Homo sapiens: one gene and its partner. The protein of the gene in region 2 interacts with the protein of the main gene of each other region in a pairwise test. Each region holds a gene or a part of one and is shown on either strand. Other genes may lie near its edges. The genes, in order: GRIP2 and CSPG4.

Region 1 (14,961 bases), on a different chromosome or scaffold from region 2:
GCTAATAAAATCAAAAAGACTGGGTTCTATCAACTGTGTGACAGTGAACGTCTCTGGTATTTCAGGAGGGCAATTCTGGAATTAAAATACGTCTTATCCTGTGCAGATTAGATTCTGTCCCTGGAAAATCCCTCTCTATCTCCAGCTGTCTTGGGAAGACCAGAGATAAGCTTGCTAGCTCCAGGTTTATGAATCCTAAGAGAAAAGTGGGGGAGGGAGAAGGATTATCTCTTAAGGAAAGGATAAGGAAGCCAAAGCCCAAGTTCACCAAATTCAGAGCAGTGGAATCCCAGAGTGGATGTGGAGCTGTGAGCCCTAATTGTAAAAACAAGTCAGAAATTCAGACGGAGGAACAACGGCACCCCCAAGAGCTGGATGCTGAAGCACAGGGTGCCCGATGTTGGCTGGCGAAGGGGGGGACCCATGCCCTGGGTCTCCGTGGTGCCCTCCAAGTTTGTCTCTGACACTGCCTGTCTTCCCTTTCCTCACCCCAATATTCAGATTTTGCTCCAGTGCACTACCGGGTGCTAAAGTGGGTTACAGTGACAGCTTAGGGACAGCGGAGGTGCCGGAGTCTGCTGGTCTCAACACCGAGTGGCTGCAACTCCCTTCCTGCTACAATTTTTGGCCGGTTTGGGGTTCAGCCTGTGAGCCATCTCTTTTCCCAGCTGTCAGAGACTTGACTGCGTGCTGCAAAACAAGTCATACTACTGTGCGCAAAGAGTCAGTGGGCAGCAGGCGAGGCCTCGAGAGACTTCCCTAGGCATCTCAGGGTGTGCCCTTGGTGGCCTCTTGTGGAAGTCAAGAAGCCATTCTTGATAGGCGAGTTGCCAGATGAGAGGCTTCTGAGCACCCAAGACCCCCTGGCATAGTCAGAAAGGTGCCCGGAAGGAATGCTGCAGTGTTTGCTGATGCCTATTCAGAGGGGACATAGGGCCTCTCTTTCACGAACATCCTCAGATGGGGGGGAACTGAGGCAGCATCCAAACCAAGAATCAAAATAGGGTTAGAATTACAATTGGCTGTGTGACTCGAGCCTCCATTTTCCCCTCTGTAAAATGGGGGTGTCTCTCCCATGGCTGACTCCAGCTGGCCAGAGCTTGAGAAGTTGAGGGGATTACTTTATTTATAGAAAACCCCTTGGGGGGGTCAGACCCTAGGCCCCCTCCTCAGAGAACATGCTTGCTCTCTCCCACTCTCTCTTTTTTGTTCCAGGACCTGGTAATTATATGCTTAGAGATGAAGGCTTTTCAAAAACATCTTTCCCACCAATTTTCAGCTGGAAACGTGCATAAAAAACAGAGATATTTTTATCCATGTTTTTTTTTTTCCCTGTCTCCTCCTTCCAGCAACGGGCAATTATGAGCTTTTGCCTTCAGTCAATCGTCCTGTAGGAACTCGCTTCAGAGGAAAATTCATTTCCGCAGTGGTGCCAGCCAGTCCCGGCGAATGTGGGGTGTGCAAGTCAGGGGAGGAGGGACAGAGGGAGAAACGTGCTTGGAGCTCAGACCTGTGCACCTGGTACTCAGGCCCACGCTGCAGCCGGGGTGGGTGGCCTTCTTTTTTATTTTATTTCTCTTGAAATCATGGCTAATTTGCCTTCATTATCTCCCGCTCTCTGGGGCCTCAGGGGGCTATTGAGCTTTGACAAAGGGAAAAGGAAGTCAACTCCTTGCCAGGCTGCCTTCGCCAGGGTCCTGCCTAAGCGGGTGGCTGGAAAGAAGCGTGGGGGAGTGGGTGGGACTATAAAGTCAGCCGGCTTTGACTGCTGCCCTGTTCTGTGAGCCTCCTGGAGGGAGGACTCAGCATCTCAAAAGGGACCACTGAGAAAACAAATGCCCAGAGGCTCCACTTGGGGCGAACAGGACATGATTTGCAGGGACGGTGAGCTGTCGGCCAGGACCATGCCAGCTCACCGGGACCCTGGGTGCTGAAGAGGACATGGGCGCTAAGTACTCCACCAAGTGACGGTCCAGCCCCAGCCAGCTTCGCCCCACCATGGAAGGGATTGTTGATATGGTGGGAAGGGAGGGATAGGCTTTGGAGTCAGTCCAACTTGGGACTTTGATTCTAAATCGGCTGCCAACTGGCTAAGGGATCTGGGACAAGTCACTTCTCTCTGAGCCTCAGACTTCTCCTCTGCAAAATGGGGGTACTGGTGCCCACCTCATGGGTTGCTGGGAGGAACTGTGGGGAAGTGTGCACAGAAACCATAAAACATGGCAGTTCCCTCCCTGCCTGCTTCCCTCACCTTGTTGAAAGGTTTTCCTAGATCAATCATGATGATGGCTCCTAGTGATTAAGTGCTGGTTTCTGTGCTTCCTAAGCACGATCTCATTTAATCCTCACCACTTTTGAGGCGGTATAATCATGATTCTCATTTTACAGATGAGGAAACTGAGGCACAGAGAGGTTAAGTGATATCCCATGATAAAGGGCAGGGCCAGGGTTTGAACCCAGGCCTAATGAGGCACAGAGAGGTCAAGGGAACTGCCCAGGGGCACAGAGCTTCTAAGTGGCAGAGCCAGGATTGAAGCCCAGGCCTTCTGGCTCCCTAAGGGGTCTGGCCCTACCCTCTGGGTACCTTCCTGCCTACTCCCCCATCCATGCAAGCCTGGAAGTTGCTGTAATGCCTGCAGCCCCGGGGCTGTTCGGCTCCAGGCAGAGCCCCAGCTCCTTTGGGCGTTCCTCCCTGGCCACTGAGGGCTGGAACAGGCCAAGGGCTCGATGGAGATGCCTCAAAGCCAGTTACAGGCTGACCTCTGAATGACAGTTCCAATCCCCACGGGCGACAAGCCTCCCAGGAAGCCCAGCTTCCATGGGGAGAGCAGCATAGAAAGATCAGATAAGCTCGGCAGAAGCACGTTTTTCAGGGAGACAAAAAGAAATGCATCAATACATTTAAAAATTTGAAGCCTCATTCATTTGTTGCCAAGGATTGCAAAGAAAAAAATAAAGAACCTTAATAAGTAGCACCCAGTGTTGGGCCCTTCCCTGGGCCAGGCCTGCTCTAAGCACTTTATGAATGCTAAGTCAGTTAATTGTCCTAAGAACCATGGAGGGAGGCTCACCGATTGTCCCCAGTTTACAGATAGGGAGCCTGAGGCCCAGAGAAGCCACTGAGCTGGTGAGCTGCAGAGGCACCTGGAACCCAGGGCTCCCTGACCTCACAACAGACCATGCCCTGAACCCTTGGCTCTGCTCTTTCCCTCCAAACAGGAGGGCAACAGACCCCAAATGAGAAGCATCAGGGCACTGGGAAGGTGACAGCTCCAGTATCCCAAGAATACCTAAGTTAGGGCTCAGGCACTCACAGGCTGGGTGCATCAGGGCTAGCAGGACCCATGGCATCACCTGGAGAGGCCGCCACCCCCACAATCCTCCTCCACACAGGGAGAGGGGCTCCTGTCCAGCAGGCCTGAGCCACACGCAGGCCAACATCCCACCATGGGAGAGCGGGGGCGCAGTCTCAAGTTGGGGGTTGGCCTTCTGCGTTCTGGGTCCTGCTCTCCTGCCCTACTCTAAAACCAGCAATGTCAAGGAACGTGACCTCAAAATCAGGGTCACCCACAGAACCATTCAGTTTCCCAATGGCGGCTGCCTGCAGTCACAAGAAGACTGTGTCTAGCTCAGGGAGAGTAGAAGCAGAAGTCCTCACCACAACTGTCAGTCCCCGGTCCCCTGACTTCACCTCCTGATGCTCGCCCTGGCCAGCTCCACTCCAGCACACTGCATTTTCTCACTTAATCCTCATAACCACACTGCCACTTGGGCACTGTTATTCTCCCCATTTTACAGCTGGGAAAACTGAGGCATGGAGATGCTAAGTGACTTGTTCCTGGTTACACAGCCAGAAGTGACAAAGCGGAGATTTGACCCTATGGGCCCACCCCACCTTGGCAACTGCACTCTAAAGGGAGGTGAAGCCTTCCTGGACACATCTGTCCTTTCGACCCAAGGCCCACCAGACTCACATCCCCCTAGGGCCTTTGCATCGGCTGTTCCCTCTGCCCACAAAACTCTTCCCCAGACATCATCAAAACTCCCGTCTCAGCTCCTTCGGGAACTTGTAGAAATGTCACCTCCTCAGGGAGGCCTTCCCCATCCGCCTGTTGGAACTTACACACGCACCCTGTACCTCCACACCTCCTCTCCACTCCCTCCCTGCTTCATGTTCCTCTGGGCAATCAACACCATCTAAATATTTACGACTATTTTTACTGGGATGTCAGCTCCAGGGGGCCGGGCTTCTGTCTGCCTGCTCACTGCTGTGTGCAGCGCACACATTGTCTGGCATGTAGTACATGCTCAGCAAATATTTTTTTAATTCAATTCCCATTTACAGATTAGGAGAATGAGAATCAAAGAGGTGGAATGAGTTTCTCAAGGTCAGAGACTAGGAAGAGACAGAGCCAGGACGCAAACTCAGGCGAAGGATCCCCCATGGCCACAGCCCCTGCTGTGGAGTAGGAGGCCAGGCCTGCCTGAGGAGTCTCAGAGCCAAGGGGTAGGCCTGGTGAGGGCCCCTCGGAGGAGTGGGTAGCCCAGGGCACAGCAGGGGGACCTTCACACATGTACACCCACACCCACTGAGACTTCCCTGCCCCCAGCATGGCAGCAAGTGCCTGCTCAGACCTAGCAGGCCTGGAACAAAGATGTCTTTGTGGCTGCGGAGTCAGAGCAGGCCTCCCGTCCTCAAGGCAGGAGAGTGAACATGGAGAGGGACTTCCTGCCAAAATCTGTGTTCAGGCCTACTGTGTGCCCCAGCCTGGGCCAATGGAGATAGGTCACAGTCCCTTCCTGCCAGAACTCTGGGGTTAGTGACAGGAAAGCAAGACTCCCTGGAGTGAGACGACATGCCCAGGGTGTGGGGCCTGAGAAGGGACCCACCCAGAGTCCATCAGGAGCAGAGAAAGGGCATAGGGCTGCCTGGTCCACAGAGCCCAGCTCCAATCGGGGCACTCACTGACGCACACTGCCAGTGGGCTGACTTCTCAGGGCTGCAGTCTTCTGTGCCAAATGTGGAGGTATATGGCTGTCCTTACCAGCAACAGGGGAGGTCACATGACCAGGCCTGGCCAATCAGAGGCTCAGCGATCCATCAGGGGTGGGCATGTGATACAAGTTGGACCAATGAGAGCCGTTTCTGGGGCATTTGCTGGAACTACTGGAAATAGGCTCTCTTTCCTTAGGGATGACTGAGCTGGTTGACCTTAAGTTTGAAGGTGCCAGGAACTCTCAAGGAGAGGAGAGAGTCTGCCTGGAAATGAAGCTCACTAAAGTGAAGCAGAGCAAGCTACGAAGAGACCCAGAGTCCTAATGATGTTAATTGAGCATCTGGATCCCACTGTGCCTGAAGCTCCATCTTTACACTTTTTGGAAGAAGAGCCTTGGTGCTGATGCAAACTGAAGCAAGTGTGATCATGAGGTTCTGTGACCTGGGGAGGAGACCTAGGGTGGAGGCTACAGTGGTGAGGGTAGAGGTCAAGTAAGTCATCAGAGAGAGAAAATGTCAGAGAGGTCAGGAAGGGCCTTGAATGCAAGGCTTAGGAGCTGAGCAGATTTGTGTTTTGGCAAGCTTCCTCCCATGGCAGCAAAGGGGTGGAGGCCAGGCCAGGGAGGAGACTGGGCAAAGGCCCAGGCAGTTGATGCTGACCCTGGGCCGAGGTGGAGGTCACAGGCCCATGAGGAGGGGGAGACACCTCCCTGGCAGTGCCCCAGGTAAGGTCTCCAGGGCACTGCTGCCTTTGTGGCCCTGACCACAGCAGACCAAGGTGACCCCACTCACCTGGGCCTTGGGTTGAAAGAACAGATGTGTCCAGGCCAAGAAGGCAGAGCCTCCATTTACAGTGCAGTTGCCAAGGATGGGTGGGCCCATCGGGTCAAATCCCAGCTTTGTCACTTCTGGCTATATAACCCTGAACAAGTCACTTAGCAGCTCTCTGCCTCAGTTTCCCCAACTGCAAAATGGAGAGAATAACAGTACCCAAGTGGCAGTGTAGTTATGAGGATTAAATGAGAAAATGCACAGAAAGCTTAGAAAAGAGCCTGGCCCAGAGGAAGCTCTCGACAACAGCCAGCTATTATGATTATGAGTGTTATTTTTCCTGGGTCGCTAAGGCTGGGTCCAGAGGTGACCTGGCTCTGCTCCTTGCCATGGGAAGGGAGGTGGGAATCAAAGTCCACTGGGCCCTCAGAAGCAGGGCTGGGGGCTCTGCAGTAAAAGTCATCGGGGTGTCAATCCCAGCTCGGCCACTGCCCTCCCTGAGCCTTGGTTTCCTCCTCTGTCCACTGGGACCACAGTCCTTGCCCTTGGAGCTGTGGTGCAAAGATATGTCAAGAGCGTGGGAAGAAACCAGTGAGGCAACCCCAGGGCAGTGAATGCAGTATGTTCTGGTCCAGGCCCCAAGCTCCCTCTTTGGAGGAATAGGGTGAGCCCAGGCTGAGGCTGGAGAGACAGATGGAACAATCGTGTCTGCCCCTCCCCTGGGTCCCAGCCTCAGCACACCCAGGAATGTGGCAGCTGTGATCCCCCATCCCACACATTCCCAGAGCCCCAGGGGCTCACCAGTCAGACCCCCAAACCAGAGTTTCTCCTCCTGCCGAGAACCAGTCTCCTGCCCAGCTGTGCCAGCACAGGAACTCCTCACCACCACCTTGCCCATGGGCCTTGGGCTCTCACCCCTCTGGGTCGGACACTCACTCCCACCAGGCAGCTGTGCAGATCCTGAGATTGGGCAAAAGGCTTCGCTCACACCCAGATAGGACCAGCCTTCCCCCTACAAGGCTGAGCACTGCCCTCGGAACCTCCAGACCCGCCTGTTCTGCCTGCCTGTGCTGGACAGCCCTGGGGGAGGCTCAGCCATCCTGCTACAGGACAGTGGCCAGGGTCAGACAGACAGCCCCAGCAAGTGTCCTGCCCCACCCTCCCCAAGCCCTGGGTCTCCAGGGAGTGGCAGTCCCAGGTCTCAGCCATCCAGTCCCCTCTCTCTGGGCAGCAGCTCCAGAGGGATCTATGTGTTCAGCCCCATCACTCTGCCCACAGACCCCCCATTACGTACCCGCCTCTCCAGGGGTCTCCCGGCTGAGCCCACACAGCATGTTCGCTATTGTCTCCCCTGCTGCCCACCAACTCCCTCGGGAGCCACGCTGCTTGGCCCTCCCTCCCCTCCCCAGGGAGGGGCTGTGGGAGGGAAGCTCACAGCTCCCACTGGCTGGGCACCGAGTCCACCCACTGCAGCGGGCGGCTCTCTGCTTAAAGGGGACATGGCTATTGTCAAGGCTGGCTCCAGGACAGGGTCCAACATGCCCCACCCCTGCAGCCTGGGTCTGGACAGGGGGTCTTTGAAGGTGGCATGCCTGGGGCTTCCCCCAGGGCTCTCAGGCAGAGAGAGAGCCTGCTTCTAACTTGCCCTGGGACTTTGGCAAACGACTCTTCCCTCACTAGGCATCAGTTTTTTCATCTGGAGACAGGGAACAGTGCTTTCCAAACTTTTTTTTTTTCTAAACGGCAGATTCCAAGAGAATTTGCACAGAACCCCAGGACATAAGCTAGATGAAGCACAGACTCTTTGACTGCATGAACAATGCCAGGGCGTCTCTGTAGGTCTCAGCTTAGAAACCCTTGAGCTTGGAGACCCTCCAGGGCCCTCCCACCAATGTTCCAACTACCTCTCCTAGGTATCAGTTTTCCCTCGGTAAAATGGGACTTAGGAAAGATGAACCCGGCAGCCTGCCACGTGGAGTGGCCACCCAGCTTTTTGTGAAGACCAAGTGAGCTGGGTGGAGGATCTGCCCGCCTCTGGGCTTGATAGGCAGGGCCAGTTGGTCACAGGCTCCAGCCACACCTGGCAGGCTCTGCCCCGTCCCAGACCCAGCTGGGCCTTAGCCTTGCACACTCCTGGGATTCCTCCACATTGGCTCAGGACTGACCAGGCTGATCTTAATGGACACCTGAGGCTCCTCCTCTACCTGTCTGTGAGAAGGGGTGGCAGGCTGCACCCAATTTCCCCTGCCCTCCATCCCACCAGTGTGTGCTGGCACCAACTGAGGGTCAGACACCAAGAAGGGTGGGGTGATGGTGACAGGGCACTGAATGGTGGATGTCAACAACCTGTACAACTGCACAGTGCGTCTGGCAACAGAGAACCAGACAGACAAGGCCTGGCTCCCATGGAGTTCCTGACCGCGTGGGAACACACGAGCCTCATATTTCTTCCATGTGCCCTGCAGCTAGTGGGAGAGGGCTGCCCGGTAGTTAGGGACCCGAGGTTTCTTGTGGGTTCCCTCCAGAACAGTGACCCCAGCATGGAATTTAGCCACAATTCCTGGGCCGCCCCACACTGGCTCCTGCCAGCCCAACGCTAGTGGCACCTTTAGAATAATCCAGGTTCTAAATCTGGGGCAGGGCTACTTGTGCTTTTGTATCTGCAAACTCAAGACCCTGCCCTGCCGCCCACTTCCTATGGTGCCTTCCTCTTTGGGCAACTTGAGATCTGTTTCTGGGGGAAGGGTCCAGGTGCCAGGCAAGTTTCCCTTGACCAGCAGTGATGCCAAGGTCTCAGCCACAGGGTGGGTGGTGAGGGTCAGATTGCAGAGGGAAGACCTGAATTTAGTGGACATTTCCTGGACGACTCAAATCATGCAGGGACGGGGGTACACGCACTCAATTTGGCCACCGGTACCCTGGCAGTGGTCAGGGAGAGGCTCGCCATGAAGACCCTGGCCTTCACCAGGGCACAGAGGCCACTCTGGAGCAGTCTTAGCTTCAACCACGCGGGAAGGAATGCATGTGAACTGCTCTAACAGATCCTCACCCCACTCGCCTCCATTCCCTCCATCTACAGCCTCTTCAGTCAGGGAGGACAGGCGCATGGCACCCAGGCAGTTGGAGTTAGATCTGCCCCTTCTTTCTCCCTCTTTCTCTTTCTCTCTTTTTATTTTTTATTTTTTTTATTTTTTTTTGTGACACAGCGTCTCACTCTGTCACCTGGGCTGGAGTGCAGTGGCGCAGTCTCCACTCACTGCAACACACTGGCTGGGCTCAGATGATCCTCCCACCTCAGCCTCCCTGGTATCTGGGACTACAGGCAGGTGCCACCATGCCTGGCTAAGTTTTACATTTTTTGTAGTGATGAGGTTTTCACCATGTTGCCCAGGCTGGTCTCAAACTCCTGTATCTGCTCCTTCTCAAAACAAAATTTGCTCTCCATACAGGTGCATTTAAATGAGTGATGAAGATTGGCAATTGGAAGCCTTGCCTCATTTCTCTGCTCCTTCTCTTAAAAAAAATTTGCTCTCCATACAGATGCATTTAAATGAGTGATTAAGATTGGCAATTGGAAGCCTTGCCACATTTCTGTCTCTCTCACTGCTCCTTTGGAGTTTACTTTTGTGGACCCCCAAGCTCCTGGAAAGGTCATGCCGTGGATTATGGGAGAGCTTCTGTGGCGTTTCTCTGAGTGCTTGCCATGCTATGCAATGTAGGCAGATGGGAAACAGCATCTCCCCTTTGCCCTCTGTCCTCGACACCCTACTGAGCACATTTTCATTTGATTTTATCCAAGTGCATGTTCAGAAGCAATTATTGGCCCATTTTGGAACAAGACAGAATTTAAATAAATAACTTGGCACAGAGAGGTTAAGCAACTTGCCCAAGGTCACACAGCTGGTAAGGATGGAGCCAAGTTTCACACTCAGGAGGCCTGGCACCAGCACCGCTATTCTTAATGGCACTGCTATGGGCCTCAGGATTTCAGGGATTTGTAAAGCTTCTGGGTGTGCAGAGGAAGAGGAATTAGCTCTGTCTGGGAGTCCACTGAGAAGGGTTTTTTAGACTGACTTTGAAGGATGGGAAGGAGTTTGTCCACGAAGGAAAAAGCCATTGCACGCGTGTGAGTCCATGGCCGAAATCCCACATGACTAAGTGAGGAGACAAAGAAGGAAACAGAGATACAGCCAGGCCTGGGGTGGTCTACTAGGGTCTCGCTCCTCCAAGTGCAGTCTGAGGACCAGCAGCATCTGCATCACCCGGAGCTTGTCAGACACGCAGATGCTCGGGCCCCGCCCAGGCCCGCCAAATCAAAAGCTGCATGTTAAGAGGGTCCTCAGGTGATGCATATGAAGTTTGAGGAGCGCTGTATTAAAGAGTTTGTCTTTCATCCTGCAGGAAATGGAGAGCTAAGGATAGCTGTAGTGCAGCGGGGTGAGACAGCTTTGCAAGCACCTCAAACACAGAGTGCAGGCTGACAGTAGGTGAGAGAAGGATTTCCGTCTGGGAGGCGGCCTAGGAATGAGCAGCAAGGGCTCCTTCTAGGACATGAGAAGAGGCAAAGCTGCTGCTTGATCACCCTCCAAAGACGATCCTTCTTGTCCAATGCTGCCAACTTCAGGGAAGCAGAAGAAAAGGGGAACAGATTGCCTGGGCATGCAAGGTGGCTGGAAGCCAGGCCTGCCAAGCACCCAGGCCACCAGGGGCTCCTGAGGACAGCATCTGACTGCCCCATGTTTCAAATGCTGTGGGTGACATGCGAGGGGGCTGAGCAGCCCAGGGGAGATGGCAGGGCCACTGAGCTGGCAGGCAGCCCCTCTTTGGTCAGGAGGGGCCCTGACACTTCCATGTCCCCAGGTTTGTGAGACAACTGGAAGACGGATTCCTGTGTGATCGGGGCACTTGTCCAAATCTCTCTGGACCTCAGCTTCCTCGGCTGTAGAATGAGAATAATAAAAACACCTACCCTCTAGGGTTGGGAAGACCACGTATTAATGAAACAGAAAGCATTCATCCACCCACTTGCCCGCCAAAAGTCTCAAACTAACGCCGTCAAATAGGCCAGAAACAGAATTTCAAGGGAGCTAAGCACACAGGTCAGACATGCCCAGGTTCGAATCCCAGCTCCACCACCCACAAGCTGTGTGACCCTAGGCAAGTCACATCTGTCTGAGATTCACTTTGCCCCTTGTGAGGAGTGAGGATCAGAGACCTTGGAAGCGTTTTGCAAACTCACGGTCACCACATGCTCTTCCCAACGCAGGGCCAGGCCTGCAGGTCCCTCACATTGTCTCTCAGTGGGGCACCACTGGCACTAGAGTTGGGGCATTCTGCTTGTGCGGGGCTGCTCTCACACTGCAGGGTTCCTAGCACCCCTAGCCCCTCCCACCCAGAGGCTAGTGGCCACTGTAGTTGAGAACCAAGCCCATGCTGCGCAGATGGGAAAACTGAGACCCACAGAGGGCCTTGTCGGGGGTGCCCCACCAGCACAGCGAGGGCCTGGACCCAGGCCTCCGTCCTTCATCTCTGACTCCAGGGCTGAGTCCGTCATAACACAGGCGAGCCTTGTCCTGAGCCCACCAGGGGCCCTGAGTGACAGCCGGAAATGAAGTCTGGGTGAGAGGGAGGCAGCAATGGCAATTCAAGGACAAGAGAGATAAACCTTTATTGCTCTGGGCTGTCCGTTGCTTCTTCCTCCGACCCTCCTCCCTCCACCCCAGGGGCCGGGCCAGGACAATTGCTCCCTCCCTGCCTGGTCCTCTCAGAACCTGCATCTTGTTGTTAAACATTTCAGCCAGGTAGGCATTATCGTACCCATTTTATAGATGGGGAAACTGAGGCTCAGTCTGGGATTCCACCAGCCACAGGGGAGGGGCACTAGGGGACCCCCTCTTAGGGGGCGCTGTTTGGTCTTGTCCTCACTCTGTCCAAGGTATTCCACATCTTCCCCAGCCCTCATGGCCCCTCACTTGACTTCAGGGAAGGCTGGGAGGAGCTTCAGGAGTAGTGCCACCCAGTGGGCTGCCCCAAGCTGTGAGCCTCAGACCCACAGAGCCTGCCAGCCTACAGGAAAACACGCAAGGCCACAGGCCAAGGAGGCTCCGACAGCCGCAAGAGCAAAGCATGGCAGCCGTGTGGACAGGCCCAGGAGAGGGGGTGTCCAGAATGTTGGGAAGAGCCACCGTTAACATAATCGGAGCAGAGACTCCACGCACCAGGCCTTGTGACCAGCATTTTGCACACATTTTCTCATTTCATCCCAGGAACATCTCCACTTCAGAGATGAGGAAGCCAGGGCCCAGAAAGGTAAAGCCACTTGCCCTTAGGCAGAATGTCAGGGGGAGCCAGGGTTTGAACCCAGGCCTGCCTGACAGCATCCCCACCCAGTGGCCCCGAGAAATGCACACACCGAACCACTCTCCACAGCCCAGGCATGTGAACACAGAGTCAGGAGGGCCAACGCAGCCAGCCAGCGACAAACACATGTTGAGAGGGGCTGGGAACCCCTGACTGGGCAGGGTCAAGTCACCAGCAGGCCAGGGGCCTGGCCACGGATGGGGCAGCTCCCAGGGGCTCCCTCTTGGGCTCCATGCTTCCCTTGACACCCACAATAGCTTCCCTCCTGGAGGACAGGACATGGGAGCACAGCTGTACAGTGGGCCTCTCTGAGCCTCAGGTTCCTCCTCTAAAATGTGGATGATGAAGTTGTCTGTACTAACAAGGTCTTTGTTGAGAAGCTCAGTGAATGAGCGAAACACCTAAAAAACTATAGCATGTGGGCACAGGGAGATGGCCAGCCTGATCATGGCCCTGCCCTGTCTCTCTGGTTACTTGTTCACTCAGAGAATATTTACTAAGCACCTACTACCTTCCAGAGGTCAGCTGGGCCAGACGTTTCAGCAGTGAACAGAGCAGGCAGACCCTCCTTTCTTAGAGCTTCTGGTCTAGGGAGGACCAGAGATCCAGCAAGAAAGACAGACAGACGGACAGACAGAAGGCATTTGAGATGGTCCCGAGGGCTGTGACAGACACAGTCACGATGTTGGCACAGAGAATACAAGGCAGGTGGTCAGGGAGAGGCTCTCAGAGTAGGCGACCTTTAAGCTGAGCCCCAGGTCTCCTTCACCAGCATCTTCACACCCCGTAGGGACCTGTGGGTGGGGTAGAGGGAGGGGACTGCTCTGCAGTAACTGCCTGGAGCTGGATGAGAAGGCACAAAGGGAGGAGGAGGTTCCAGGTAGGCCGACCAAGCTTGGGTACCAGGAGCAGCTGAGGGGCAGGTGCAGCTAACGCACAGAGACAAGGTCGGCCGAGGCCAGGGAGAGGAGTTGGGATTCTGTTGAGTGTGAGGGGAGGGTTTTTAGCAGGGTCGTGCTGTGACCTAACTTCTATTTTGCAATGGCAACTACCGGGAGTGGGCTGCAAGGGTCAGGATGGCACGGGGGTGAGGGGTCTGAGGGAGGAAATGGGCCAGGCACTTGAGAGGCGGGAGATCTGGAATCCAGGTCCCTTCTGCTCTGAGCCTCATTTTCCCCTTCAGTTGAGCATCAAAGCTCCTCTAATGACAGCCAATAGGGCACGTTTGAGGAATTGCCAGTGGGAGAGGTCAGAAAGCATGGAGTCAGGATGTATCTTGATGCAAAACAGGAAGAAAAAGAAAAATGGGCACCAGCTATAAACAGGCGAGGCACAGGGCGTGGAGGGCAAATGACCCCAAGTTCATGCAGAGGTGTCCCAACTAACTGTCACCAGAGAAGTGAAAACAGAAACAGCGAGCTCCCACTTGACTCTCCTCAAAATGGCAAATGCTGGAAATGCAGACAAAACCAAGAGCCGGTGAAGATGTGGGGAGATGGAGATGGAAAGTCACAGCACAGCTGGTGGGGGGTAAACTGAGGCAGCCACAGTGGCAGCACCTGGTGGTGTTAGGAGAAATTCCATGTCTGGCCACCTGTGTCCCAGTACCCTCACTCCTGGAAGTTATTGCAGAGTAATTCCACCCCCTACCCAGGTCCCTAAGGGGCATGAACTCTTGAGAATGTTGGTAAAGGTGACCTGGGACTCCATCCTAGGGTAGGGGACAGGTAACGTGGTGACTGCACACCGTGTTGTGTGACACAGCAGTTAGAAGTGCAGCCACATGAACAGATCTTAGAAAACCTAGTGTCACATTAAAGAAAGAAAGGAGGGGAGAAAGGGAGGGAGGAAAGATGGAAAGGAAGGAAAGAAGAGAGACAGAATGAGATCTACCCCGTGGTATCATTTATGTATTGAAATGTGGTGTCATTATGTATCGAAAGCAGACACATAAAGCACTATCTATGCTGCAAGGGCACACACAGACGGAAAGACCTGTTTCACCTATTTCAAGTGCAAGTTTAGAGGGAAGGAATTTGGGGTGGGGATAGGGCATGAAGGAGAAGAAATAAGATTATACAGAGCCAGATCTGGCGCTGGGATGGCCCAGAACCATGTGTGCTTTGAACTGAGAAATTTAGCTCAAGCTTTGGAACTTGGAGTTCAAAAATTAAAAATAAATAGGTGCCTCAAATGGCATGTTAGAAGTTGGAACTCTCTCCTGAGGATGCTGCTGGAAGAGTTTGGAGGGAGAGAGGGATAGGGTCAGCTAAGTGTCTTAGAAAACTGACTTGAATGGGTGCTCAGAGCGCTCCTGGGTGAGGGGTCAGGCCTTGCTGTCTGTCCACCCTCCCCATCCTCCTCCCCTCAGGGGCTGCTCTGACTGTCCACCAGCCCTCTCTCTGCCTTCCTAACAAAAAGCAAAACATGGAAATAAATGGACAAAGCTATTGGGGCTCAGCTCCAGGAAAAAGCAGCATTAAGCATCCAATCTCAGGATGCAGTGGCCCCTCCCTGCCCTGTCCTAGAGAATGTTGTCAAGAAACCCAAGTTCAAAGTCCAGTCACTGCTCACACAGGGCCTACTGGGGGCCAAGAACATTACACATGTTGAAATGTCAGTATCTCTTATAAAAGGGACTACATCCAAAGAGGATCTGCCACAAAACCACCCAGAACAAAGGTGGCCACAGAGTCAGGGATGGTCAGAGGAGGAGTCCAGGAAAGCTGCCGGGTGGAGGCAGTGTCTGAGCCACGCCTTGAGGGACAAAGAAACTCAACACTCAAAGGTGAGGTAGGCAGGGATTTCCAGGGAGAGGGCACAGCCTGGGCAGA
Region 2 (14,972 bases):
ATAATCTTCCCTCTTGGACAGGGAGATGGGTGGGTTTCCAGGCTCCATCCGTACCCTCCTTTCCCCCACTTTCCTGGCCCTAGAGGACCTGGGACCCTCACCTCAGTGGACCCAGGCTGGGGTAGGGTTTCTGGCAGGGAAGAGAAGAGTGAAGGACCCTCACTTGGCACTGGGCCTGCACAGCCCCCCAGCCCTAGCAGGGCTCCTGGGAGGCATCTCCCATGTTACAGGTGAGGAAACTGAGGCTCAGAGAGGGCAGTCCTCCGTGCTAGCCTGTGGAGCAGCGGCAGGGCTGGGACTTAAGCTCCTGTGGGTGTGGCTCCAGAGCTAGGGGCTGTGGGTGTCAGCAGGGCACATGCACCGTGTGTGCACCCAGAGAGGCGTGGTGGGTTTGCTTGCTGCCTGTGAATCGGAAGTGGAGCATCTGCCAATGGCCCCAGTGGGAGGAGGGTGTGAGAGCTGGACCCCAGCCTGGGGAACACACACTCTTTCCCTTCCTGTCCCCTGGGACTCTTCTGTCAGGGCCGGGTGGAGGGGGCAGCGAGGAGGGGGGGACAGCGAGGAGGGGAGGGAAGCATCTGCTCTCCTTGGGCGGTTTGGCAGCCCCTCCTCTGTGGCTCTGGGGCTGGCCGAATCGGGAGGGCCCTTCTGCAGGGGCTGGCGGGGGATGACTAGGTCCAGAAGCCAGTGATAAGTGCCAGCCCTGCCCACTGGTGACTTGGAGGTCTGGGAGGAGGGTGGAGAGACAGGGGTCTGGGTGGGAGCTGCCCCCAGGAGGCTGAGGGCCAGGCTCTCTCCTGGGCTGTGTCCAGGACCAGGCAGCCCATGGCTCATCTCTGAGTTCCCCTTGGCTCTGGCAGCAGAAACTGCTGAAGACAGGGCTGCTGGGGCGGCGTCTCGGGGCTTCCCCAGCCTGGCGGGCTGGGTCTGGAGATAGTGAGTGTGTGAGTTGGGATGGGGGAAGAACAGAGGAAATGGTGACTGTGGGTCTGGACGGCTGCCTGGACCTGAAATCTGGTGGCACAACTTGTGCACAGTAGCCTTGTGTGCCTCCTCCTCAGTTCCCCCATCTGAATACAGAGGGTGGGCTCACCCCACAGACAGAAGTCCATGTCCAGGGCAGAAGCCTGGGTCAGGGCTCACACCCCCAGCACACACACAGGGCTCAGAGCCATGTGCTTCCATGCTTTCCCTGGCCTCAGTGTCCCCATCTGTAAAAGGGGACCTGGATAGAGGGACTGACACACATCTGGCCTCTGACCAGCCCAGCAGACTGGCAAGAGGTGTGGCCACTACCGTGGGTACAGTAGAGCCACCTCTGGCCTAAATGGCCACAGGTCTAGCCAGACTGGAAGCTCTTGAGGACAGGACCAGGGCCCACATCTCCTTCCCAGGGCATCTGTGCAGCAAGAAGGCCATGGACCTGTGATGAGGGAGGTGATGTCAGCATCTAAGGGAACGAAAGGATCAAATGAGATGGCATTTGTCCCGTGTGAGGGTTTTTCTATCAGGCAGAGCTGTCCCACCACAGCAAGTCCCAGCACTGGTGGTGCTCCAGTGGGAGGGCGTTGCCGGGGGGTGCACCAGGAAACCTCAGTGTCCTTGCTAGTGAAGCTCTGGGCTACCCAGGCCCATCAGAGATCCCGAGACTGAGACCTCTCTTCCTGGGCAGGCCTGACTCCTCCTGGAATAGGTTCCTGCCTAGCACCCCCACCTGCCAACTGCCTGGAAGCCTGCAGCCTGTGGGCCCCCCCTGGAGCTGTGCCCACCGCCACCACACTCCCTCTGGCCCTCCTTTTCTCTCCCGGCCTCAGGCCCAGCCTCTGCTAATGCACCACGTCTCTCTCACTGGCACCAACTCTCCAGGGCTCCAGGCCCACTGCCAGTGTCCCTCAGATGTCCATGGCAGGAACACCCACAGGAACCCCCAAGCCCAACCCCACCCAAAGCAAGGAGGACTCAGTGTACTCTCCCCTACAGCTGGCTCGCCAGCCCCGTGAAGGCCCGACTGTCCACCTGTTGCTGAGTAGACATCTGAGGGTCGCACTGAACTCTCCTCCTCCTCCCTCCCCACAGCCACTGCTGATTAATACTCAGGTTCCATCCATCCAGTCCCCAAATTCTCCTTCAACTTCATCTTCCTCTCTTGCTCCCTGGTCCATCCATAAGGCGGCTGGCCACCGTCCTCGGTCTGGCTTAATCAATCTCCTGACTCCCTTTGCTAATAGCAGCCCCAGTTAACCCAAACTGAAAGCCACTCCCTCAGCCTCCCTTGCCTTTGGTGGCTCCCATTGCCCCAGGGTCAGGCCCCCACCCCCGGGTGGCACTGAAGGCCAGGGTGCCCTCAACTCTGCCTGCAGGGTCTCTTGCTCTCTTCCAAGGACACTCCACGCCTCCGTCTCACTAGACTCTGCACTGACTCCGTGCACACCTAGCAGGGCCGACCTGCTGCCTTCGCTCAGGCTGGGCCTGCTGCTGGGCCAGCTCTTCTCTCCTGTCCACCTGTGAAATGTCCTCATGCTCTTTCAGGAAAAAAGCCCAAAGCACCTTCTGTGTCCTTGGGGTGCAAAGACACTCGCTGCGGCCCAGGGGGCTGTGCTGTTGTCACCTCTCTCCATTTACACTGTGAGCCTTGGGGACAAGACTGACCTTGCTTGGGGACAGGACGTGGGAGGAAAGGAGGGAGGGGCCCACCAGGGCATGAGGGCCATGGGCCCAGTGGGAGGGGCTGCCTCTGGGAGCTCGCCCCAGCCCTCCCCACCTTGTCTTACCTCCAGTCTCCTTTCCAGGCCTCCTCTGCCCTCCAGAGCCCCAGGGCTCAGAGGCAGGGGACTGGACACTATGGCCTGGGAGGGCTCGAGGGACTGCCAGAGCCAGAGACTGCTTTTCTGGGCCTGTGGTGACAGAGTCTGGTGCTTGTTTTTAAAGAAAATAGAATCCGAGCCCCTATTTATAGCCGGAGGCCACAGCCACAGACAGAAGACGGATGGGGTTTGAGGCTTACAGGCCCCTGCTCTAGCATGGACTGGGAGGTGGGGCCATTCCCAGGCCCCCCTGCCCGCCTTTGTCAACCCCCAAGGAAGTGCCTGTGGGATCCTGACACTCCCTGGGACAGGATGTAGCCTGCACTTTGGGGCACGGGAGGACCTGGTGAGGGGAGCGGAACATTTCTCAGGATTGGTCCCTGGGGCCCAGAGTCCCTTGTGGGAATGGGAGGAGGTGAGGGTCTGTTATGTCTACTGAGAAGGCAGAGAGGGCCCTGGGGACGGGTGGGGTGCTGGCGGCAGGGAGCACTTCTGACTGCCGTGGAACCCGGTAAAGGAGAAGGGAAGGAGAACAGAGCAGGACTGGAGAGATGGGCAGACAGACAGAGAGACAGGGTAGGAAAGACAGACAGAAAGAGATGGAGGAACCACAGCCAGGGGTGGGAAAGGACAGAGAGATGGAGAGAGCGGGATGGGGGGATGGACTGAGAGATCGGGGGTGCTCTGCAGCCCGGGTGACCCTGCGCAGGGGCAGACAGAAGCCGTGAGGGGAGACTGAAGTGTGGCTTCCGTCCCATAGAGTCTTCATGGTGCTCCAGGCAGCGTGGTCAGAGTCCGGGTGGAGCCGGTGAGGAGGGAGGAAGCAGGCGTCTCTGTGGCCTCGCCCACCCCCAGCCTCCAGGGTCTAGGGGCTGGAGACCCTCCGTTCCCGGCAGTCTCCACGGGGAAGGCCCAGGCCTGTTGGAGGCAACGCAATGCGGTGGGGCAGAGCCCAGATTGACCTTGTCACCAAGATCCCCAAGGGCTGTCTTGGGCACGGCCGGGACCTTGAGGGACAGGTCTGGTCTCTGGCTTGTTATGGAGTGAGTTCCCTAGGCCTGGAGGGCTCACAAGCTAAGGCTATGGCCTGGACTCACACCTGCTGCCAGCCTCTACGCAGACCCCTCCCTTGGCTGCGCTTGTAGGGGCTGTGGGGTAACCGTAGCCTGGGGCATGTGTCATGGAGCCACAAGCAGTGACTCAGACAGTTAAAAAAGGAGCAGCTCTGAGTGGTGACTCAATTGGCTCTGGAGGGGCTGGGTGGGTCTGGCTGGTACAAGATGGGGTGGTCTGGGTTTATTTTTGGCAGGGCGGGGCTGGGGCCAGGGGGTGGAAGATGGGAGCCGGGGGTGGAGAGGAGCCGCTGCTCTCATCCCGGGGGGAGCCCCAGGGCTCCATGCCAACTTAGGAAAGTGGCTTTCCAATGCCAGGGAGTCCTGGCAGGCTGGGCTGCTTCTCAGCCCCATTCCAGGCCTAGCCTGCCTTGCTGCTTGGCCCAGGACAAGCAGCTGGCTCTCTCTAGATAGAGGCAGAGGCCCCTGTCCTGTTCCCAAGAGGCTCAAGCTCAGAATTTAGAGCTGACCTAGGAGACTGAAGATTCCACCCAGAGGCCCAGATAGGGCCAGGGGTCTCCCCAAGGCCACATAGCAGGGCCAGGTAGCCCAAGGGCTGTGGCACCATCAGCCAGCTGGCTCAGGCCTCTACAATATCTCGCTGGCCCCAGGGCTGTCCACGGTTGGAGGGACAGCCCCCGTCTGAGTACCCACCCCTGGAGGGGCTCAGCCAGGCTCCAGATGGGTGGCCAGAAGCACACGGGCCCCAGATGCCCAGAGATGGAACCTTGGCCAGGGGCAGCCACCTGGATTCCATTAAAACATGTGGGTGGGGGGCCTGGCCGGGCCCTGTCCAGGGGTCTGTGGAGAAGAGTCACCTCTACGTGGGTGAAGGCAGTGGGGGCCTGCACAATGGGATCTTGCCCTGAGGGCTCAGGCACAGGCCTGCCCTTGTCCGGGGTCCCTCCAGTGTCCCTGCCCCGAGCTGTGCACCCCACTCTGCAGTCACCTCAGTCACCTCCCCACACCTCCCCCTACTCTGAGCTCACATACACCCATACCACTGAGGGGTCCTAGCAGCCCAGAGCGGAGAGGGCTGTCCCCTCCCTCAGTCCGGATTTCTGCTCCTCGTGATGCAGCCACCACTGCTTATATCATGAGTGGTGGTAACAGCCCCATGGTGACTCTGGCAGGTGAGCTGTCCCACGTCCCTGGGCCCTGGCCTCCAGCCCCCACCTCCAGAGAGGGACTCGCGAGGGGTTGGTAGAGAGCAGGGAAAAGACAGGCTTCTAGGGTCCCCGTCCCATAAAAGGTCTTGGGGCCTGCTCATTCTCTTCTCCTCACTCACCTGCTCTGGGGACAGGGGGTTCCTGCTGTGCCCCGGCCCAGTGAGCCCCATCCTAGGGGCTGTTAGGCTTGGGAGAAACAGGCCCTGGGGAGGGCCAGGCAGGGGCTGTCCCCACTTCTTCTAGCACTGAGAGAGGGGTGTGGGCCTCAGCCCAGTTAGCCACAGAGATGCAGACCCCCACCCCCTCCCACCTTCTGAAGGGTCCTGGGCTGGCAGGCAGCCGCTGGCTGATACCCTCTCCAGAGCCCACCTCTCCTTTTCCATGTCACTTAGTCCCACACAGACTCACGGGGCCACCTCCTCTAGGCCTTTGCCTCGGAATCTTCCTTAAACACTCCTAAGCAGAAGTCCCCATGTTGCCGGGCCACTCCACCCTGGGAAGAAGATGCTAATAGCAGAGTGACTGCAGCTTCAGGAGCAGATGTCCACCGAGCATTGATTCCAGGCAAAGTGTCTTGCTTAATCCTTACAACACGTAAGAGGTTGGAATTATTTATCCCCATTTTAGAGAGGAGAAAACTGAGGCTCAGAAAGACAGAGTCACTTGCCCAAGGTCATGCATAGAGCGTCAGGGCTGGAATTCAACCTGAGCTCTCTAATGCCGTGTTTCACCACCATGTGCCTGGCCTCCTGCTTCCCTGTGTGGGTTCCCACAGCTCAGGACTCAGAGGAGGGAGAGATGGGGCCTGGGTCAGGGCTGAGGGGCAGGGGAGGGGCTCCCTCTCAGCTGCTCGCAGACTCCCAAAAAGGGTGATTTGCTCCTCCTTGACCAGGGTGGGAAGTAAAAGTGTGTGTGTGTATCTGTGTCTGTATGTGTCTGTGTGCATATGTGTGTGTCTGTGCCTGTGTGTATATGTCTGTGTGCGTGTGTGTGTGCGTATGTGTGTCTGTGTGCATGTGTCTGTGTCTGTATGTCTGTGTGTATCTATGTCTGTGTGTGCCTGTGTGCGTATGTCTGTGTCTCTGTGTGTGTGTGGCTAGGCCTCAGGCCTGCCTGGCTGGACTCTAGCTGCAGGAGAGCTGGTCTGGCCCCAGCAACTGTGCACAGGGAAGGGGCAGGGAGAAGCGGGTGTCGTGGGAATCAGTGTCCTGGTCCCACTGGTATTTATAGCTGCCCCTTCCTGAAATGTGGGTGGGGGAAGGGGCTGCTCTTAGGTGGGAACGGAAGTTCGTCTCCTCTCCCCAGCCCCCTCTGTCTCCCCAGAGAGTGGACTGGCCCAGGCCAGAGGGCCTGCCCTGGCGGGGGAACGAGGCACTGTGTCCTGATTTTGGGGGTTTTCCCTGGGGCTGCTGGCTCGGGGCAGGACACTCTCCTTGCCTACTGAGCAATACTGCGTGTGTGTGAGTGTGTATGTGTGAGTGTATGTATGTGTGTGTGAATGTGTATGTGTGTGTGTGAGTGTGTGTGTGCACACACACGCATGTGCACTTACTGGGTGTCAGGCTGAAGAAGGTCATGAACCGGGGACAGAGGCCAGGTGAGGGTAGGGGAAGAAAGGCCTGTAACCCCACAGAGATGGAGGGCAGGGCCCCAGGAGAGGGGCCATCCAGGTCATGGGTCTCAGAGCAATCTGTGGTTAGAACAGGCTCCTGGGGGTGGCGATACTGGAGCTGAGCCTTGGAGGATGGGGGAAAAGGGAAGGCCTGTTGCATGGAGCAGCTTGAGTAGAAGTGGAAAGGTGCCAGCGGTTGTGGATTATTATCTGATGGCCTAGTTCTATCTGATCAGCCAGTCCGTGGGACACAGGATCACCTTGACCAGGGAGGATGATATATTTGGGGAGAGAAGGACATAGCACAGCACAGTTGAGCATCCCTAATCTGAAAATTCAAAATCCAAATGCCCCTAAATCCAAAATTTTTTGAGTGCCAATAGGATACCACCAGTGGAAAATCTCACACATAAGAACTTTTTTTTTTTTTTTTTTTAGATGAACCCTCACTGACTCTGTCACCCAGGCTGGAGTGCAGTGACGCGATCTTAGCTCACTGCAACATCTGCCTCCCAGGTTCAAGCGATTCTCATGCCTCAGTATCCTGAGTAGCTGGGATTACAGGTGTCGCCAGCACGCCCAGCTAATTTTTGTATTTTTAGTAGAGACAGGGTTTCACCATGTTGGCCAGGCTGGTCTCGAACTCCTGAGCTCAGGTGACCTGCCTGCCTCAGCCTCCCAAAGTGCTGGGATTACAGGCGTGAGCCACCGCGCCTGGCCTCCACACATAAGAACTTAACATAAATTTCTCTCAGGCACAAAATTTCTTTAAAAAAATCTATAATGTTACCTTCAGCCTATGTGTATAAGGTGTATATGAAACATAAATCAATTTCATGTTTAGACTTGGGTCCCATCTTCAAAATATCTCACTATATATAACAAATATTCCAAAAGCCAAAAAATTCCAAAATCTGAAACACTTCAGGTCCCCAACATTTCAGATAAGGGACACTCAGCCAGTGTGGAGTGAGGGCCAGCAGGCAGTGGGCAGGAGTGGGAAGCTGGGGCAGGAGAGGCCACACAGCCCCAGGCCTGCTGTGAGGAAGCTGGGACCACCTTCTGCTCCCGGCCTCCAGGCTCCCAGACTTGGGGAAGGACATCTTCCAAGGGCCCTTAGTACCAATCTTCATGGAACCCAATCTATAAACAGGTTTGTGGAGTGGCTCTGCATGAATTGGGGTGGGGCAGGCGTCCCATATTCCCAAGCTCAGCTGCCTCCAGGCCGGCTCAGCTGGAGAGCCCTGGGGTGCGCTGGAGTGCAGTCAGAAAATCCCTGGTTGGCTCAGTGATCTCTACACCCCTCTGGGGGCCAGGCTGTGAGCCCTACAATGGGGGAGACCCCTGAGCAAAGCAGGTGGGATGTGTGCTCCCGGGGAGCTGCTGGTCCTGAGGGTGAAGCTACCCCCCAAACCAGGGCCAAAGAGTAGGGAGCCCTCCCCCTAATCTCCTGAGGACTCACTGTGTGACTCTGAACAAGCAGGCTCCTCTGTCTGAGCCCGGGTTTCCCCAGGATCCATGGGGGGCTGGTCTGGGGTCAGGGGTTTCTGCAGTAAGTTCCGGGAAGGGAGGCAGCGTCACTGACACACCTCAACCTTAGGCCGCAGGAGAGCCACACACTGAAGTGTTGAAGCAGGAGCGATGGCTGGAGGCCTGGCTAACGCATGCATGCCAGGGCTGGCAGAGCCAGCGGCCTCCTCCACAGGCTGGGAGCCGGCCTGGGTGTGGGAAGGAGCTGAGCGAGAGGCAGGAATGCTCAACAGGACAGGCACTGTCCCTGATGGGGCCCACCCCTGCCACCAGGCCACCTTGACAGCAGCCCTACAGCTATCACCCTACATCAGAGACAAAAGTGGCTTCATTGGCAACCCTAGCTTTGGGGGGAGAGGGTTTTTTGAAGGGGATTTGCTTAGGCTGTGAGAAAGTGGGGAGGGTTTGGAAAGGGAGAGAACGCTGGCTGGTGGGGGATGGGGAGACAGAACAAACATCTGGAGTCCTCAGCGAGCTGTCTGTCCCTGCAGACCTCTCTCTTTCCCCTGCTGGGGCCTGAGCCCACTGGTGGGTGGTTGTCCACCTGGCCTGATGTGGGGAAACTCGCTGCTGTTGGGGTGAGTGAGAACACCACGGCCTGTGTGCCCAAAGAGAGACCTGAGGCAGTCCCTGCTTTTCTCTGAGCCTCAGTTTCCTCATCTGTAAAATAGGACTGTTGGACAGGTATGGTGGTTCACACCTGTAATCCCAGCACTTTGGGAGTCCCAGGTGGGAGGCTTGCTTGAGCCCAGGAGTTCGAGACCAGCCTGGGCAACATAGTGAGACCTCGTCTCTACAAAAAATAATTACCCTGGTGTGGTGGCACATGCTTGAAGTCCCAGCTACTCAGGAGGCTGAGGTGGGGAGATCGCTTGAGCCTGGGAGGTTGAGGCTGCAGTGACTGTTTCCTGACCTGCAGGGCTGCTGTGGGGCTGCAGGACTAACAACATGGTTAGTGCACACTATGGGGTGTCCCTGAAGGTAAGAGCACAGCAATAAGACAGCTCTGTCCTCTCCTGTTTGGAGTTACGGACCCTCCTGAGAAGCGGAGAGAGCTAGGAACCCTTGCCCCACGGAGGAGCCAAGTACAAAATTGTTCATACAAATTCAGTTCATTCAAAAATTCCTCATACAAACTCAGTAGGAATGGTAATACAGTAAATCTGAAACCTGCCCTAAGCCTGCAGCTGGAGGAAGAGCCTTAACTCTGGAAGGCTCTATTGAACTGACATATGCTGGGGCGGAGGGCATGTTGGAGGCAAGAGGAGAGCTGGATGGGGCGGGAGTCAGGGGGAAAGGCAGTGAAGGAGCAGAGGGACCAGGGAGGGACCAGGCCTCAGTCCCATGCCCACAGGCCCCTTGTTCATTTGCCCCTGGCCTTGAATAGAAGACACACCTCAGGTGGCACCCCTGTCCCCATCCTGTGCTCACTTCCTTCCCCGCAAGTGCCACTGGCCCAGATCTTTAAGGTAGGGGACTTGGAGACAGAGGCAGTAGCCACCTCGTCCAGGTCTGTGAGAGTGGCCGTGTGCAAGTGTGTGTGCCCACATCTGTGTGCGCCAGTAAGTGCGGACGTCAAGGCTATTTCCAACTCCCCCTCCCCTGCCCGCCCCTCCTGGGCAGCACGCCCAGTTCCCAGACACAGCCTATACACTTCCTCTGAGAGCTCCACACGCACCCTACTCCCCTCCTGCCGTCATCGACAGCCGCCTGGCCCACCTGGCATGGCCCACCCCAGGCCCCCCAGGCGGGCAGCACTAAAAGGCCCTTCTTGTCCTGCCCGGGCGGGCAGGCGTAGGGAGGGAGGCTCCGTTACACTTGCTCTAGAACAGTTTTTCTCGAGTCCGGGTGGGCTGGGCCAAGGGCTCTGGCCCCTGGGCCCTGCCCTGCTCCGGAGGCCTGGGGTGGCACACAAGGTGCACACAAGGCTCAGTGCCTGTCCCGAGCACCATCGGTCCCCCCAAGCCATCCTCAGAGGCAGCAGGATCTACCCTGCTTCAATTTCTTGTACCTGGTGTCCCTGTGGCCCTGCTCACTAAGATACCCCCATCAGTTCTGAGTCCCCACCCAGGTAACACACAAGCCCTCCCTGCCAGGTACTCCCCAACCTGGGTCCCACTTCAACCCCTCACATTCTGCCTTTCAGTCAGTGATGCCAGGGAAGAGGTGTGGGAGCCACCACCCCTGCCTGCCCTGTGCTCACTGTGACCCCCCGACTAGAATGTCACCTCCTTCCTTCTCTGCCTGTCCTTCCAGTATCAGCTCAAATCCAATCTCCCCCAATGCTTGGCTCTCTGCTGGGGCCTCCCATACAGCTCAGAAGGAGCTGGACACCGCATCTGTCACCCACACTGTCTCAGTGGCCCAAGCCTAGGCCCCGACGCAGGCTGGGAGCACCCTCGAAGCAGGGCTGGGGGCTCTTCCTGGGCTGCTGGGGTTCTTGGTGGAACTCAGAGTACTTTTCTTCCTCTCTGGGGCCTCAGTTTCCCTCTCTATACAAGTGGAAGATTGGCCCAGATGGCCTCTAGGGTGCTGACTGCCAGGCCCCCTGACCTGGATGCCTCAAATGTTGATGAGTAGAGGGAGAGCCTCCCAGCACGCCTCATTCGGATACGGGAGGACGAGGGCCTTTGCAGCCAGGGGCATCCAGGAGGGGTGGGAGGGACGCCTTCCTCAGGCAGGGGCTGCCCCTACTGCAGAAATCAGGGCAGGCAGCTGGACCAGGAGTGGTGACAGAGATGGGTTGCTGGACGGGAGCTCTCACAGCCCCTCCTCATTTCCGAGTCCTCCTAAAGGCAGGGGATGGTGTAACTTTATAAAACCCCACAGCACCATGCTGCTCTCTTGCCCTAAAACCCTTGTGGCATCTCCTTTGCCAACAGGGCATAAGGCCGTGGGCTTCATTTTGCCATTTAAGGCTTCTGTGCCCCAGCCCAGTGGTTCTCCCTGGCCTGTGCTCGAAATACGCCTCCCAGCCAGGCTGCTGGCCTTCCTGTCTCAACACCCCTCTGCTTACGCCCACCTTGGTGCCTCTGAGTCAGCGCCCCTGCCTGGAGGACTGACTCCCTTCCCATCCACCAAGGCTTGGTTTGAGGCCCACCCTGTGTCCTGCCCCAGCTTGCCCCTGCTTTTCTCCCCTCTGTACTTTTCATCCAGATTTTTGCTGTTTGAGATTTAATTTGCCTTTCTGCCTCCTGAATGAGTCTCAGTTCAGCCTCTCAATTTCCCGTGCCCCTGCGAGCCTAGCACCATGCCTGCATGCTGTCAGGGCTAAGAAGGTATTTGAGAATGGCTCTCAGTTGAAGCCCAAGGAGGTGGGGGTACTGGAATCCCTCCTTGGCTGGAGGCTGGGGCCTGAATGAGCTGACCACCCTGGTCACCTTGGATGCTCCCTTCCCATCTCCCTGGCGGCCCAGCCCATCCCTCAGGCCCTGAGATCTTAGGGGATCTGGTCCCTGCAGGAACAGGGAGCCTGGAGATCCAGCCCTGATTCACCCCGCGGGGGTCCTCCCTTGACTCACTTCCCTTCTGGGAACCATGTGATGCCCTCTTTTAGAGCTGGCTTCTCCATCTGAAGGAGAGAAGGGTGTGGCCTGGGCCCTTGTGAAGGAGGCTCAGGCCCTGCCTTTGCTCCATGTTGCTCTTGGGAATGATCTCGAAGGTGTAGCTGAAGCACTGAATCACACGTGGGTAGTGATGATGGATGGGCCCTAAGGCCACAGTTCTTATGGCATAACTAGAGCTGCCTTCGCTGAAGGAAGAATGCTGTCATGTTGGGGTTTCTGGCATCGGGACAGAGAGGGGATATATCCCAGCACTTCTCGGAAAGCGAACTTCCATTCAGCCTCTGCTGGGTCAGGCATCAGTGCTGGGATGAGGAGGTGTGGCAGGGGGTGGTCCAGAGCTATCTGTAGGACAAGCCCCGCTGAGGGGCACCAGCTCTCCCTCTAGGAGGCTGAGAGTGGGTAGTGGGTGGGGGGTCCTGCCTGTCACCAACAGGAGGAGGGAGAGGAGAGAATGAAGAGGGGAGGTGGCAGATAGACGGATCTGCAAGGAAGCAAGGGGAGGAAAGAAGGGGCAGAGCTGGGGGGCAGCTGGAGGGGTGTGGGGGTGCTCCTCACAGGGGAGGGCAGGGTGGCTCATTCCTCGTTTCCCACCTTGTAGCACTCCCCATTCCTGGCCCAGGGCATCTGAAGCTGGAGGACCCACTTCTCACTGTCGCCGGGTCCCTTTGGACCCCAACATACTCACCCCAAACTTGCCTGGCAAACAAAGCTCGGCCAGCATTGGGGTGGCCCCACTGGTGTCTCAGACAATCCAAACGGGCAAAGCCACGCCCTAGGCAATCCATGCCTGGGGCGCCTGCTCCCGCCCCTAACTGGACAGCCTTGGCTAGCTAGAAACCCCATAACCTGAGATAGCGGGGTCCCGTGTCCGCCCCAGGATTGAACCCCTGGCGACCCCAGCTAGTGGTGGGAGAAGCGCAGCCTGCTTGACTCCCGATCTGGGGGCCACTTCTGGCTCCTCCTGTCCCTTTTCCCTCCCGGAGGAACCCCTCTAGTTCCGCCAGGCTGGGTCGGGGTCTCAGGCCCCTCACTCACCCGCGGATGCAAGTCTGGCCAACATAGTCAGGGTCAAAGCCAAGGCCAGGCCGGGGGCTGGAAGTGGGGGCCGCGGCCCGGACTGCATCCCGGCGGGCTGGGCGGCAGGACTTGCGAGGAGCCAGCGGAGTCCTGGGAGCTGGGAGCTGAGTGGAGCGAGCGCGGCTCTGCTCCTGGGCGCGGGCCGGCTCCGGGTGTCCGCGCACTTAACTCCGGGGGCGGGGCAGGCGCAGACCCGCGCGCCCGCTCGGGTTTCAGGCTTGGACTCCCCCACCTGCCCCCACCCTCAACCTTCTTAAAGGGCCCGTGCGGGGCTGTTCCTCTCTGGGGCAGGGGTGAGGGGGCCCTTGCAGCTGGGCCAGACCCCAGCCCCACCCTAAAGACTTAGAACAAAGTCATAGAGAGGCCCAGACACCCTGAACTCTGGCCCCAAGAGCCGAGCCCGGGAGACCCCCTCAGGGAGGAGGCATGAACTGTCCCAGCCCCTACTTCCCTCCTTTCTGCCTTTGCGGGAGTTCAGGAGACCCCTCCACAGGCACACTCCAGCCTTAGGAGGAAGGACAGACACCAGCCACCCTCACAGGCGGCTTTTGGGCTGCTTTGCCTCGGAGGTCCCCTAGGAACTTCTCCAGACTCCAGAGGCACCACCCGAGGTCCTGTGGGGCACTGCCCATGGCTGCAACAGTGACCTTCTCTGCCTGGAAGGGCCTCACCTCAGTCTCCCTGTCTGTAAGGGAGAGATGTCTGGATTTCCTCGCAGGGCAGAAGAATTCTCAGTCCCGCCATGACATTTGCCTCAAAATAACCTTGCAAGGTGGGTGAGGAGCATCCCCTCCCCCATTTCATGGAGGACGAAAGTGCAGCTCAAGCTGAAAGTGGCTCTTACAAGACTCCAGGTGGAAAGTAGGTCCCTGGCCGTTTGGTGCCAGAAGCCCAGGCCTCCTGACCCCTGAATCCGGGTGTTTCAACTTCCCGAGGCTGCCTCCTGGAAATCTGGCCCTGGATTTGGCTTCTACCTAACAGCTTCAGGCTGGGGCCCTTCTGCTGGCTCCCTTCCAGGCAGCAACATCAGCCTAGTCCCAAACAGGAGGAGAAAGGGCAATGTTACTTAGCTTCCGGTGCCTAGAGGATCTGCGTGTTCTCTGTCCAGTCCCAATGTTACCGGGCCTTGGTTTACTTCCTCCATTCAGGTCCCTCCATCTATCTGCTCCAGCCCATCTCCAGCCCAACCCCACCTTGCACCCTCTTCCCAGCTCTTCCCTTTGACCAGTAACAGCCCAGCACTTCATACTTTGCAACGAAACTGAGACCTGTTTTGCAGATGAAGAAACTGAGGCTGAGAGAGATTAAGGGACTGGAGCTAGTCTACATAGCTGCTGAGATGTGGGGCCAGGTCTTTGACCCTAAGTGCAGTGCTCAGGTGTGATGGTGCCTGGTCCATGTGGGGGTTATGAGTATTGGTCTTGAAACCAGAGAGACCTGGGTTCAAATCCCAGCTCCCTTACTTGGTTGTCAAACCTTGAACAAGTCCCCTCACCTCTCTGTGGCAGTTTCCTCATTTGTAAAATTGGGTTAATGAGGATTAAATGCTTTAATGTACCTCAAGTCCCTAGCCCAGGGCCTGGCATACGGTAGGTGCTCAATAAATGCTTATCCTTTCTCCTCCGTCTCTGTCATCCTGCACATTCCCTGTGATTCATGGTTTACATACAGCTTTACACATATCACCTCCCTTGTTGTAAAGCTTGAACTTTCTCCTCCAGAGGCTGCTGCATACAGTAGGTGTACAATAAATGCCTGCTGTAGTTGACTAAGAAACCAATTGCTGCTGTTCTGTAGGGATTTTGGCAAACCTAAGAGCTTCCATCCAGGTGCCCTAGGAGGCCTGGGATGGAGGCTGTGCTAGGCTGGCCTCAGTGGCGGTAAAGGCATTGATTCCACAATTTGTCCCTTGTTTTTTTTTTTTTTTTTTTTGAGACAGAGTCTCGCTCTGTTGCCCAGGCTGGAGTGTAATGGCGCGATCTCGGCTCACTGCAACCTCTGCCTCCCGGGTTCAAGCGATTCTCCTGCCTCAGCCTCCTGAGTAGCTGGGATTGCAGGTGTGCACCACCATGCCTGGCTAATTTTTGTATTTTTAGTAGAGA

What was found.
Region 1: the proteins of CSPG4 (region 2) and GRIP2 interact in a two-hybrid assay, tested with the Homo sapiens proteins (one study listed by BioGRID).

What each region holds. Positions count from the first base shown.
Region 1 is NC_000003.12:14,533,208-14,548,168, forward strand, and holds the start of GRIP2 (glutamate receptor-interacting protein 2), read right to left. Parts: upstream 7,136-14,961; 5' UTR 7,102-7,135; coding exon 7,062-7,101; intron 1-7,061.
Region 2 is NC_000015.10:75,699,840-75,714,811, forward strand, and holds the start of CSPG4 (chondroitin sulfate proteoglycan 4 precursor), read right to left. Parts: upstream 13,010-14,972; 5' UTR 12,917-13,009; coding exon 12,829-12,916; intron 1-12,828. UniProt on the Homo sapiens protein: Proteoglycan playing a role in cell proliferation and migration which stimulates endothelial cells motility during microvascular morphogenesis. May also inhibit neurite outgrowth and growth cone collapse during axon regeneration.